Homo sapiens: one gene and its partner. The protein of the gene in region 1 interacts with the protein of each later gene in a biochemical or structural test. Each region holds a gene or a part of one and is shown on either strand. Other genes may lie near its edges.

What was found. The genes of interacting proteins can lie anywhere in the genome.
Region 2: the proteins of RAMP3 (region 1) and SLC31A2 form a complex in vitro, tested with the Homo sapiens proteins (one study listed by BioGRID).

The regions. Positions count from the first base shown.
Region 1 is NC_000007.14:45,160,155-45,168,456, forward strand, and holds part of RAMP3 (receptor activity-modifying protein 3 precursor), read left to right. Parts: intron 1-2,103; coding exon of another isoform or gene 2,104-2,267; intron 2,268-3,543; coding exon of another isoform or gene 3,544-3,712; intron 3,713-8,302. UniProt on the Homo sapiens protein: Accessory protein that interacts with and modulates the function of G-protein coupled receptors including calcitonin gene-related peptide type 1 receptor (CALCRL), calcitonin receptor (CALCR) and G-protein coupled estrogen receptor 1 (GPER1).
Region 2 is NC_000009.12:113,160,691-113,165,626, forward strand, and holds the end of SLC31A2 (protein SLC31A2), read left to right. Parts: intron 1-315; exon of another isoform or gene 316-818; coding exon 819-1,008; exon of another isoform or gene 1,009-2,058; coding exon 2,059-2,227; 3' UTR 2,228-3,450; downstream 3,451-4,936. UniProt on the Homo sapiens protein: Does not function as a copper(1+) importer in vivo. However, in vitro functions as a low-affinity copper(1+) importer.

The DNA of each region.
Region 1 (8,302 bases):
ACTCCGTCTCTACTAAAAATACAAAATATTAGCCGGGTGTGGTGGTGCATACCTGTAGTCTCAGCTACTCAGGAGGCTGAGGCAGAGGAATCGCTTGAACCTGGAAGGCGGAGATTGCAGTGAGCCGAGATCATGCTATTGCACTCCAGCCTGGTGACAAAGCGAGACTCTGCCTCAAAAAAAAAAAAAAAAAAAAAAAAAAAAAAAAAAAAAAAAAGACTTGAAGGTGGTGATTGGCCAAGAAGAGGCCCATAGATTTTTGGCACTGGAGGTTCCTTGGAGGTTATCTGACCTCCATGCTCTTACCTATTCTTCATAAGGAAACAGAAATCTGGAGGTTAGAGAGGAAGTTGCCCAACCACAGAGACCAGGGGCAGAACCGCCCAGAATCCACAGCCTCCCAAGGTCGACTGACCGTGGCCCATGGCAGCCACTTGCCAGTCTCGTCGATGCTCTTTCTGTCAAGGAGGGGGAGAGCGCCTGTGTTTCATTTCCAAATGACTAGCCACAAAAGCCCTTTCTGGCGGAAATGCATCTGTTTGGCTGTTTATCATCTCTCAGTGGCGTCTGGAAGTCCCTGAGACAAAAGAAACACAGGCCGGCATGTTCTTTGTTTCCCAATGAAACCAACCAAAATGGATTTCTATTTTGATTCAGTTCCTGCGACCTTTACTAATGCAGCCAGTAGCTTGATTGGCAATGGCCCTCTTTTGTGGTGTTGCCAGGAATCTGTCTTTACACCATTGTTCTAACATTGGGTGGGTTGTCAGGTTTTGCTGGGAGCCCCTCAAGCCTCATGTGCACTAGAAATGAGCTCCCTGGGGAGGGCACTTGGTTTCTCAGGGTGCCTGCCTTGTGCAGGCCCAGGGCTGGTGCTGTCACAGGCATCCTCATAGCACCTCCGTGGGTAGAGGAGTTATCCCAGAACACCTGCCTGAGGATGGCATGTGGTCCTCAAAGGCACATTTACAATCTGCCTGAGCCAGGTCCTTGCGATGGGGCATGTGAAGATTATGGAGTATGTAGAGATTTGGGGCATGCAGAGATTCAGGGAGGGGCATGTTGTCAGGGACCCCTCCTTCTCTTTTTAGATAGCTGTGCGACCTGGGTGGGTATTTGTAGAGCCGTGGGGGAGGGGCTGGGCAATGCCCTGGCACTGGGGGTGGTGGGGAATTGATGCTGTCTTTGCCTGGCTCAGTGAGGGAGATCAGGGGCTCAGGGAGAATAATAGTTGCCTGAGGGTAATGAATACTTATCAGGACCTTGTCCCTGAGCTGTGTTTCAGAGCATCATAGTTAATGTGAAAATGTGGCAGACACAGGCCCTGTGTAGGGAGGTGGGCTGTAGGAACAGCCATGACTTGGGCTGGCTGCGGCAAATACCTCCAGGAAAGGGCTGGGGAGGAGAAGGCAGTGGTTCAGATTCATTCTGACTTCCAAGAAGAGGAGGAAGGAAGGAGAGGAGAGGAAACAGGGGAGGGGGAGGAGGGTAAAGAAGGACAGGGGAAGGAGGAAGAGAGGAAGAAGGGGAAGGAGGGGGAGGCAGAGGAGGAAGAAGAACTGGGCTGGGTCTCGGTGGCCTGATAGGTGACAGTCAGAGTAGGCTGAGGGGGGACCAGGCCAAGTGGTCCAGGTCTAGGGGTTCAGATTCAGACCTAGGGGTCCAGGTGGACCAGGCTGCAGGTGTGGGCACTGGCCAGGAGGGACAGGGTGGGGCTAGCCTGGCTCGTGCCCATTGGGATGGTGGGCGGAGCTCAGGAGACCCACCCAAGGGTGCTGAGAGAATCTGTTAGGGAGTGACGCCAGACCCAGGGGTGAGGACAGGAGCTGGATGTGGAGAGCAGCTAGGCGAACCTTCAGAGTCCAAGGCAGGGGCAGCTTTAGGGTGAAGGTGCACAGGCCGCCTTAGTCCTCGTGTGACTCCACGTGGTCCCTGGGGCTTGCACCCCTTGGTCACTTATGCCAGGGCTGTCTTTTCACCTGCAGGCAGGTGCAGTTGAGCAGGGTGGCAGAGGGAGGCCTTGGGAAAGTCGCTTTCTTTTGGGCCTCCATCGTCCCATCTCTAAACTGAGGGAGGTGGTGAAGGAGGCATGATGTTTTTCAGGCCCTTCCCAGGATCAATGCCGACCTGTACTCCAGAATCTGTTGCAGAGCCCAGGCTTGACATGGAGCTTGGAAGTGCCCACTGGGAGAGAAGGAAAGGAAGGTGGGGATCGGGGACCAGGGCTAAGTGGGGCCACTCCAGCCAGGAGCCCTCAGGGCAAGGAGGTGAGCCTTGGATGCAGCCCTGCTTGGCAGACCAAGGGTGGGAATTGGAGTGAGGGTGTCAGTGTGAGGCAATGGTGACATGCCACCTGGAGACAGCTCTGTGGGCAGGTGGCCTGGCTTTGAACCTTGACTCCCCTGCCTTGTCTAAGTGAGGAAGCAGCTGACCCACCCTGCCACAGGGTTTCAGTCTTTAAGTACCTGCCCTGTCTGGCTGTTGTAGGGCTTGGCGGGTTGGGCCACACTTAGAACAGGGCATTCAGGGAGCACTGGTCAGTACTGAGGGGGGTGGAGAGCCTGGCTGAAGGGAAAGAGAAATGGGGCAAGGGTCTGCCAGGTAGGTGCCACTGGTTCTGTTTCTGAATGGGGACATTGAGGCTCAGAGGGGCAAGTGAGTGAGTGTCAGGGTCAGGGGCAGAGCCGAGGTGAGCACCTAGAGCCTTCTGGCTCCTGCTTGCTGCTCTTCCATCCCCCATGCCCTTACTCCTTGGAGTGTGGTCCTCGGACCTGCAGAAGGGGCTTGCCTGGAGCTTGCAGAGATGAGTGCTTTGGCCTCCAAGCCTGCTGGACTGGAATCTACATTGCTTGAGGTCTTCAGGTGATGGCCTGCACATCTGAGTGGAGACACATTGCTTTCCATCTCTCAGTCTCAGCCTTGACCCCATGTCTGAATCACTTGGAGGTTTTAACAAACATGAATTATTGGTTTCACACCCCAGAGGCTCCCATGCAATAGGCCTGGGCTGTGGCCTGGGTGAGCCTATTGTGCAGTTGACTCTGCTGGGTCTGTCCTATCTCTGGTGGCTGCCCTGAAAGATGACAGTGCCCAGAGGAACTAGGGATAGAGCCCCCAAGCCTCAGGGCTTTCTGGGTGGGTTCATGAATGGTGGTCCCTACCAGCCTTATAGAAGAATGGCTTCACTTTTGAGTCTCTTATTACTTTTTGGTTCCTTCAAAGCACTTCAGGGTCTAGAGCTGTGCTACAAGAGAACCTGGGGTCAGCAGCTTGGGATACACAGAAGTGGGAGCTGCTGGTGTCCAGGAAGGAGGCTGTGGTAATGGGGGACAGTCTGATTGTGGAGGAAGAGGGGCAGGTGCTGCCAGCAGCCAGAGGGTCGTGGAGCAGCAGCTCATGGGTGGGACAAGCTGGAGGCTGGGGTCAGCAGTGGTGGGAATAGGAAGTTGGGGCCCGATGGAAGCTAACCTTGACAGAGATTTTGTAGGTGCACAATTATTAACCAATGGAAACACACAGAATCAGAATCACTCTTTTTTACAGATGGGGAGACAAAGGACCAGAAAGGTGAAGGGCCCTGCTTGGAGTCACACAGCAAATCAGGAACTAAACAGGATGAGGTCTCTGTCTTCTGGCTCCGTGCCAGTGGGGCATCTGGAGGGTGGCACGGTCAAGCTTCAGAAGGACACGGGCCTCCATTCCTGCAGAGATGGTATGGCTTCTCTTGAAGGGACGCCAGCTTCAGTCCTGGCTGATGCTTGCCCAGGATTCCATGATGTGAAGGTTCAGAGGGCCTATTTGGGTTAAGTGGGAGAGTACTGTGGCTGAAAACCCACTTCTGCCTTTCTATTAGACTTTAAATAAACTCTGAAGACCTGTACATCCTGCTCCAACCTTGCCCTGGGTCTACCTTTCCAAAGTCACTTCTTCTTTCCTTTACACCCACAATGGTGTGTACCCCACCCTTCCACACACAGTATACCCAGCTCCACTGTGCTCCTGCCTGTGCCCTGGACACCTCTGTTCCTCCTCTGTTCACGTTTTCTAATAGCTTCCTGATTTTTATCTACTTGTTCTGTAAATTATTGAGAGAGGAGTATTCTCCAATTATCTGCTGGGTGCGGTGGCTCATGCCTGTAATTCCAGCACTTTGGGAGGCCAAGGCGAGAGGATCACTGGAGCCTAGCCTGGGTAATATGAGATCTTGTCTCTACAAATAACAAAAAAAAAATTAGCTGAGTGTGGTGGCACATGCCTGTGGTCCCAGCTACTCAGGAGGCTGGGGTGGGAGGATTGCTCAAGCCCAGGCAGTGAAGGCTGCAGTGAGTCATGATCACACCACTGTACTCCAGCCTCGGTGACAGAGTGAGACTTTGTCTCAAAAGAAAAAAAAAAGAATTCTCCAATTATAATTGTGAAATTGTGGATTTGTCATTTTCTTTTTGTAGTTCTGTTTTTGCCTTGTGTGTTTTGATGCTGTTATTAGGTGCATACATATTTAGGATTGCTACATCATCTTGATGAATTGAGCCCTTTATTGTATTGAAAAGACCCTCTTTATCTCTAGTAATATTTTTTGCTCCAAAACATACTTTGTCTGATATTAATATAGCCACTCCATCTTTCTTTTGATTAGTGGTAGCAAGATGTGTCTTTTCCCACTCTTTTATTTTGAACCTATTTGAGTCTTTTCATTTAAAGTTGGATTCTTGTTGGCAGCCTACTGTTGGACCTTACTTTTTGTTCTTATTTGACAATCTTTGCTTCTTAGTTGAAGTGCTTAGACCATTTACTTTCAATCTGATTATTGATATGGTTAGATTTAAATCTACCATTGTACCATCAATTCTTTTCCTCTCTTTTCTCCTTTTCTGCCTTCTTTTGGACTTAGTATTTATTATTATTACTCCATTTCTTTTTCCTCTTGCCCTTCTCCTCCTCCTCCATCCTTGCTAATTGGGTGTAATTCTTTTTTTTGTTTTGTTACTCCAGTGGTTGGTTCAGGGTTTATGGTATACATCTTTAATTCATCAATCTGTCTTCAGGTGACATTACACTGATTCATGGATAGCCTAAGAACCTTCCATTTCTCTCCTCCTGAACTTTATGCCATTGCTGTCATATATTTTATTTAAATCAAAGTTATAAATCTCACAATACATGATTATTATTTTTTACAGAATTTAGACATTGAGAAAAATTCTATATATTTACTTGCATAGTTAAAATTTCTGATCTCCTCCATTCCTTTGCATAGGTCCATATTGGCTTCTGATAGGCTTTCCTAAACATTACTTATAGTTTGGGTGTGTGGGTGATATTTCCTTTCACCTTTTGTATGTTTGAAAAAGTTTTTATTATGCCTTAAAAAGCCAGCATTATTGAGATATAATTCACATGCCACACAATTCACCCATTTAAAGTATACATCAATATTTTTTAGTACATTCCTAGAATTTTGCAACCATCACTATACTCAATTATGGAACGTTGTTGTCACCACAAAAATAAACCCCCTACCCATTAGCAGTCACTCCCTATTTCCTCCAACCCCCTTAGCCTTAAGGAATCACTAATATGTTTTCTGTCTCTAGATTTGCTTGTTCTGCACATTTAGTGTAAATGGCATCATATAATATGTGAGATTTTGTGACTGGCTTCTCTCACAGCAGAATGTTTTTAAGGTTCATTCATATAGTGGTATGTTTTAGCACTTCACTCTTTTATGTACAAATAATATTCTATCACATGGGTATACCACATTCTAGCCATTCATCAGCTGATGGACATTATTTCATCTTTTGGCTATTATGAATAATGCTGTTATGAATCTTCATGTAAAAATCTGTGTGTGAACATGTGCGGTATAAATTTAGGAGTGGAACTGTGTAGTCATATGGTAACTCTACGTTTAACATTTTGAGAAACTGCTAGACTAGTTTCCAACGTGGCTGCTTCATTTTACATTCCAATCAGCAGTAGTATATAAAGGTTCCAATTTCTGCATGTCCTCACTGACACTTTTTTTTTTTTTTTCTGAGAGAGGGTCTCATTCTGTTGCCCAGTCTGGAGTGCAGTGGTGCAGTCATAGCTCACTGCAACCCCGGACTCCTCAAGCCATCCTCCCACTTCAACCTCCCAAATGTCTGGGGTTACAAGTGTGTGCTATCACGTCTGACTGCCTTTTTGATGATAGCCATTCTGGTGGGTGTGAGTGGTATGTGATTGTGGTTTGATTTGCATTTCCCTGATGGTTAATGATGTTGATTGTCTTTCATGTGCTTATTGATCATTTATATATATTTTTGTAGAAATGACTATTCATATCCTTTGCCCATTTTTAATTGCTTTATTTTTCCCTTTATTATGGAGTTGTAAGAATTCTTTATGTAACCTGGGTACAAGTCTTTTATCAGATATACAACTTGCATATATTTTCTTTCATTCAGTGGGTTGTCTTTTCACTCTCTTGATGCTATCCTTTGAAGTACAGAAGTTTTAAAATTTGACGTGTCTAATTTATCTATTTTTCTTTTGTTTCTTGGGTTTTTGGTGTCATGTATAAGAAGGCTTTTTCTCACACAAGGGCACAAAGATTTTCTCCTGTATTTTTCTAAAAGTTTTATTTATTTATTTTTTGAGACAGAGGCTTGCTTTGTTGCCCAGACTGGAGTGCAGTGGCGCAATCTCAGCTCACTGCAACCTCGGCCTCCCAGGTTCAAGCTATTCTTGTGCCTCAGCCTCCCGAATAGCTGGGTAATCTAAGAGTTTTATAATTTAGCTCTACATGTAGGTCTTTGATGCTTTTTTTTTTTTTTTTTGAGACAGAGTCTTGCCTTGTTGCCCAGGCTGGAGTGCAGTGGTATGATCTCCGCTCACTGCAAGCTCCGCCTCCTGGGTTCACGCCATTCTCCTGCCTCAGCCTCCCCAGTGGCTGGGACTACAGGTGCCCGCTACCTCGCCCGGCTAATTTTTTGTACTTTTAGTAGAGACGCGGTTTCAGTGTGTTAGCTAGGATGGTCTCGATCTCCTGACCTCGTGATCTGCCTGCCACGGCCTCCCAAAGTGCTGGGATTACAGGCGTGAGCCACGGCGCCCGGCCTGTGATCCATTTTGAGTTAATTTTCGTGTATGAGGTGAGAAGGGTCCGACTTTATTCTTTGGCAAGTGTATATCCAGTTGTCGCAGTACCATTTGTTGAAAAGAGTATTCTTTCTCTGGTGAATTGTCTTGGTACCTTTGTAGAAAATCAATTTATCATAAGTGTGAGGGTGTATTCCTGGACTCTGAATTCTATTCCACTGGTCTATTTATCTAACCTTATGCCAGTACCATGCTATCTTGATTACTGTTGCCATGTTGTAAGTTGTAAGATTGGGATGTGTGAGTCCTACAACTTTGTTCTTTTTTTTTTTTTTTTATTTTTGAGACGGAGTTTCATTCTTGTTGCCCAGGCTGGAGTGCAATGGCGCGATCTCGGCTCACCGCAACCTCCGCCTCCCGGGTTCAAGCGATTCTCCTGCCTCCTGCCTTGGGAAGCCTCTCCTGAGGCTTCCCAAGTAGCTGGGATTACAGGCATGCGCCACCACGCCCGGGTAATTTTGTATTTTTAGTAGAGACGGGGTTTCTCCATGTTGGTCAGGCTGGTCTCCAACTCCCGACCTCAGGTGATCCACCCGCCATGGCCTCCCAAAGTGCTGGGATTACAAGCGTGAGCCACCTCGCCTGGCCAACTTTGTTCTTTTTCATGATTGTTTTGGCTATTTTGTGTCCCTCGCTTTTCCATAGAAACTTTAGGATCAGCTCATCAATTACTGCAATGGGCCAGCTGCGATTTTGATAGGGATTGCATTGAGTTTGTATATCACTTTAGGTAGTACTGACATCTTAACAATTAAGTGTTCCAATGTGTTAACATAGGATGTCTTTCTATTTATGTAGATCTTTTAAAATTTCTTTCAACAGGCCTGGCATGGTGGTTCATGCCTGTAATCCCAGCACTTTGGGAGGCCGAGGCTGGTGGATCACCTGAGGTCAGGAGTTCGAGACCAGCCTGGCCTACGTGGTGAAACCCCGTCTCTACTAAAAATACAAAAAATTAGCTGGGCATGGTGGCAGGTGCCTGTAATCCCAACTACTCAGGAGGCTGAGTGAGGCATGAGAATCCCTTGAACCTGGGAGGCAGAGGTTCCAGTGAGCCGAAATGGTGCCACTGTACTCCAGCTTGGGTGACAGAGTGAGACTCTGTTTCCAAAAAAAAAAAAAAAAAAAAAAAATTCTTTCAACAGTGTTTTATACTTTT
Region 2 (4,936 bases), on another chromosome or scaffold:
CCTTCCAGAGGTAGGGAGTGGGGCTGAAAGTGCCAACCTCCAAGCACAAGTTTGGCTCCCCTGGCAACCAGCCCCCATCCAGGAGCCTCAGCCATCAGTCATCTCATTAGCATATAAAAAGACACCACTTGACAGCGTTTCCAAGGGTTCTAGAAGTCGTGTGCCAGGAAACCAGGGCAGAAACAGGATATATATCTCTTATTATGTCGCAGAGTCCAGTAAAATACTTTAGCTGGACCACTTATTATCCCTCTTAGTGAAACAAAAGTAGTAATTAACAGTTAATTTTACACAGCAGCTCTAATAAGCACTTGATAGTTTTGGTAAAATAATTTATTGGGTTTTTCCCCTATTATAAAAGTAATATATATAAAAGAAACCTTAGAAAGTTAGGCAAGAACATAAAAACCACCTGTATCCTACTTTGCTGAGATAACTATTACTCTTGTGCTATTTATCTTTCCTTCCAGACATTTTTTGCATACTTACATATAAATAGGACCTTGCAGTACTCATCACTTAACAAGAAGTCACGACAGATTTGTGCAGCCTGCTGGGGGAGTGGGTGGGGTAATGGTACGTGGCTTCTTCACCCTCAGCCCCTGGATTTTTCAGGTGGCTTCTCTTCCTGATCTCAAAGCCACACTCCAGCTAAGAAAAGTCTGGTGAAGACAGTGAAGAAGTTCGGAACTCAGCAAGGGTGGGGAAGAAGGTGCAGGATAGAGGTGGATGGAGTGGATTCCATGAACAGGTGGAGGTGCTGGAAGGGAAACAGTGCTGGCCTGGCCAGGTCTCCACAACTCTGCCTCCTTTGACAGGCATGGCCCTTTCGGTGTTGGTGCTCCTGCTTCTGGCTGTACTGTATGAAGGCATCAAGGTTGGCAAAGCCAAGCTGCTCAACCAGGTACTGGTGAACCTGCCAACCTCCATCAGCCAGCAGACCATCGCAGAGACAGACGGGGACTCTGCAGGCTCAGATTCATTCCCTGTTGGCAGAACCCACCACAGGTACAGGCAGTGGGTATGGGAAAGGGGCAGAAGCCTCACATTCACCCTGAGAGACAGGCTGGCCCAGACAGCATTAGCCCCACTTCACAGAGAGGACAGCGAGGCCCAGGGAAGGACCAGGACTTGCCAAAGTGGCTACACATAGCCAAGTGAACTAGAGCTCATGTCTCCTGATGCCCAGGCCAAAGCACTCTGTGAACAGCCAGCCACTTGAGAGGCTCAGAAGGCTTTCTTTAGGGAACAGTGATCTTCAGGTGCAGGCCCCTATCTAGCAAATGAGGTGGCCACCCACCCTCCCCCAAATCTCACCAGTTCCATGGGTCACTAGGCTCCCATATCCAGGAGGGGATCTGCAGCTGTCCTGAAGCAATGTATCCCACTTGGTGGGAGGAGGATGACAAGCTCTCCTCTCCTCCCTTCCCACTCGAATCAGGCAACCATTTAGGGTCCCTGTTCTGCCCTCTGTCCAGCCCCAGCCTCACCTGTGCTTAATAAGCCTGCCCGCTCCATCACTAGCCACCCTACATGGGTGTCTCAGATCTTCACAACTGCACTGCAAGGGAAGTATTCTCATTCCTGTTTTACTGATAAGGAATCTTACGTTCAGAGAGGTTAAGACATTTGTCTAGGCCACTTTTAGTTAGTGGCAGGTCTAGGAACTGATAATGTCACCTAAGACCATGCTTTTTCTTTCCATTGTCATACTGCCTCCCGAAGTAGATTCAGGGGGGAAATATGCCTTACTGATGATTTTCTCTTATTCCTTATCAGAAAGACAGATTATAGATACCCTCATTTTCCCCTTTGCCTAGGATGCCAGGAAGCTTGAAACCAAATGTAGTGAAGATATGTCTCTTTAAAAATAAATCTCGAGTTTTTTCTGGGGGCGGGGGTGGGAGGGGCAGAAAGAAATCACTCCTGGGTTAAGCATACAAGTTATAAATCAATCGGGTCACGTAACTCAACAGCTTTCTACTCCCTGATATCTACTCCCAGCTTCCTCATTACCAGCTCATTACCAGGATTAACTTGCTTCTCCTTTTTATCTAGGTGGTATTTGTGTCACTTTGGCCAGTCTCTAATCCATGTCATCCAGGTGGTCATCGGCTACTTCATCATGCTGGCCGTAATGTCCTACAACACCTGGATTTTCCTTGGTGTGGTCTTGGGCTCTGCTGTGGGCTACTACCTAGCTTACCCACTTCTCAGCACAGCTTAGCTGGTGAGGAACGTGCAGGCACTGAGGCTGGAGGGACATGGAGCCCCCTCTTCCAGACACTATACTTCCAACTGCCCTTTCTTCTGATGGCTATTCCTCCACCTTATTCCCAGCCCCTGGAAACTTTGAGCTGAAGCCAGCACTTGCTCCCTGGAGTTCGGAAGCCATTGCAGCAACCTTCCTTCTCAGCCAGCCTACGTAGGGCCCAGGCATGGTCTTGTGTCTTAAGACAGCTGCTGTGACCAAAGGGAGAATGGAGATAACAGGGGTGGCAGGGTTACTGAGCCCATGACAATGCTTCTCTGTGACTCAAACCAGGAATTTCCAAAGATTTCAAGCCAGGGAGAAGGGTTCTTGGTGATGCAGGGCATGGAACCTGGACACCCTCAGCTCTCCTGCTTTGTGCCTTATCTACAGGAGCATCGCCCATTGGACTTCCTGACCTCTTCTGTCTTTGAGGGACAGAGACCAAGCTAGATCCTTTTTCTCACCTTTCTGCCTTTGGAACACATGAAGATCATCTCGTCTATGGATCATGTTGACAAACTAAGTTTTTTTTATTTTTCCCATTGAACTCCTAGTTGGCAATTTTGCACATTCATACAAAAAAATTTTTAATGAAATGATTTCATTGATTCATGATGGATGGCAGAAACTGCTGAGACCTATTTCCCTTTCTTGGGGAGAGAATAAGTGACAGCTGATTAAAGGCAGAGACACAGGACTGCTTTCAGGCTCCTGGTTTATTCTCTGATAGACTGAGCTCCTTCCACCAGAAGGCACTGCCTGCAGGAAGAAGATGATCTGATGGCCGTGGGTGTCTGGGAAGCTCTTCGTGGCCTCAATGCCCTCCTTTATCCTCATCTTTCTTCTATGCAGAACAAAAAGCTGCATCTAATAATGTTCAATACTTAATATTCTCTATTTATTACTTACTGCTTACTCGTAATGATCTAGTGGGGAAACATGATTCATTCACTTAAAATACTGATTAAGCCATGGGCAGGTACTGACTGAAGATGCAATCCAACCAAAGCCATTACATTTTTTGAGTTAGATGGGACTCTCTGGATAGTTGAACCTCTTCACTTTATAAAAAAGGAAAGAGAGAAAATCACTGCTGTATACTAAATACCTCACAGATTAGATGAAAAGATGGTTGTAAGCTTTGGGAATTAAAAACAAACAAATACATTTTAGTAAATATATATTTTTAAATAGTCTATGACTGTTCTGTTCTCCTAATTCCAACAGAAAGCACATGAACCCTTGTAACAACTGCAGGGGCTGAGTGGGGCTAATAGAACTGGTAGTACTCTTTATAAGCCTGTCTGAGGACAGAGTCCATCCATCTGCTACAAAGACAACTCTGCTCAGGGAAACCCAGCCCTGAAATGCTGCACCCAGGTAGACACCCCAGAATGCCAACTGAGGCAAGTCAAGTCATTCTTCATTCATGTAACAAGTATTAATTGAGTACATGCTATAAGAAAAGTAACTGTCACACGGACTTTAAGCACCTGTGTTGGCACAATTACTCAGCATCTTCTCTCCCTGCGGGCAGAAGCAAATATAATAGCCACTAGTTAATTTACAATAAGAAATAACTGCCCTAGAAAGTAGACTATGTCACACCTTTAGGACTGATCAGGGCATTCCCCCATGTTTGCAGGGAACTGGAAAGCTGCCTGGTGTCTCAAGAAGCCTGTTTCTAAAAGCATCACCGCCCCTTCCCCCAACCAGTGACAGTCAGGCTGTGCTGGCCAAGAGCCCAGGCTCTGGAATCAGATGGCCAGGATTTGAATTCTTGTGCTGAGGCTTCCTAGATATGTAACTTTGGGCAAATTACTTTACCTCTCTAAGTCTCAGTTTTCTCCTCTATAAAATGGTGATAACACTGTCTTCTGCAGTGGTTGCTGGAGATAAGCCAGTCTGTGAAAGTGCCAAACAGCACCGCCTTTTGTTAAGCAACAAAGAAATAATTAGTTCTCACTGCCTCCCAGGTCCGCACACGGGAGACATATCCAAAGCCTGCAAGGATGATGCCAGGCCAGATGAAGTGGAATTTTGGGTCCTATCTTTTAAAACATTTAAAATCAAGAAACATTTTTTATTAAAATTAATTATTCTGTTTTTTTAAAGACTGATTGCATAATCTTTGGAAGATCCTGGAATCAAGAAAATGACCACAAGTATTTTCTCACTACTGTTCTCTGCATAAGTCCTGGTCCCATGAGTTCTAAGGGAATGGAAGCTGCTCTCAAAGTGAAGAATCCCTCAGGTGCCATGAACAATGGAAAGAAGGGACCCTCTCACCTTCTTTGCATGGCTTCCTAGACTGCAGGACTAAGCCTGCAGGAGCAAGAGGATGACTGGACTGGTCCTCACAGAACCATCATGCCCCAGGGATGAGCTAGGACTACAGTGGTGACTTTCTTTGAAAGCCTAAAAGTTCCAGGGTTAGGTATCAAAGGGAGTAAATATGCCACAACGTTTTGTGCACATTAACTGACCCAGATCTGTAAGACTCCTACCCTTAGATTCCCAAAAGAGCACAGACAGCCCTTGGAACCAAACTCAATTTTTCTCCAAGGGCTTGGGTCAAGTTTCATTATAGACATTTATTTTAGTTTTATTTTCAAAGTCATTGACCTCTTGTATCAGATTTAAGGCAAAGAAGAAGATACATGTCCCAGGACTATAGGCCAG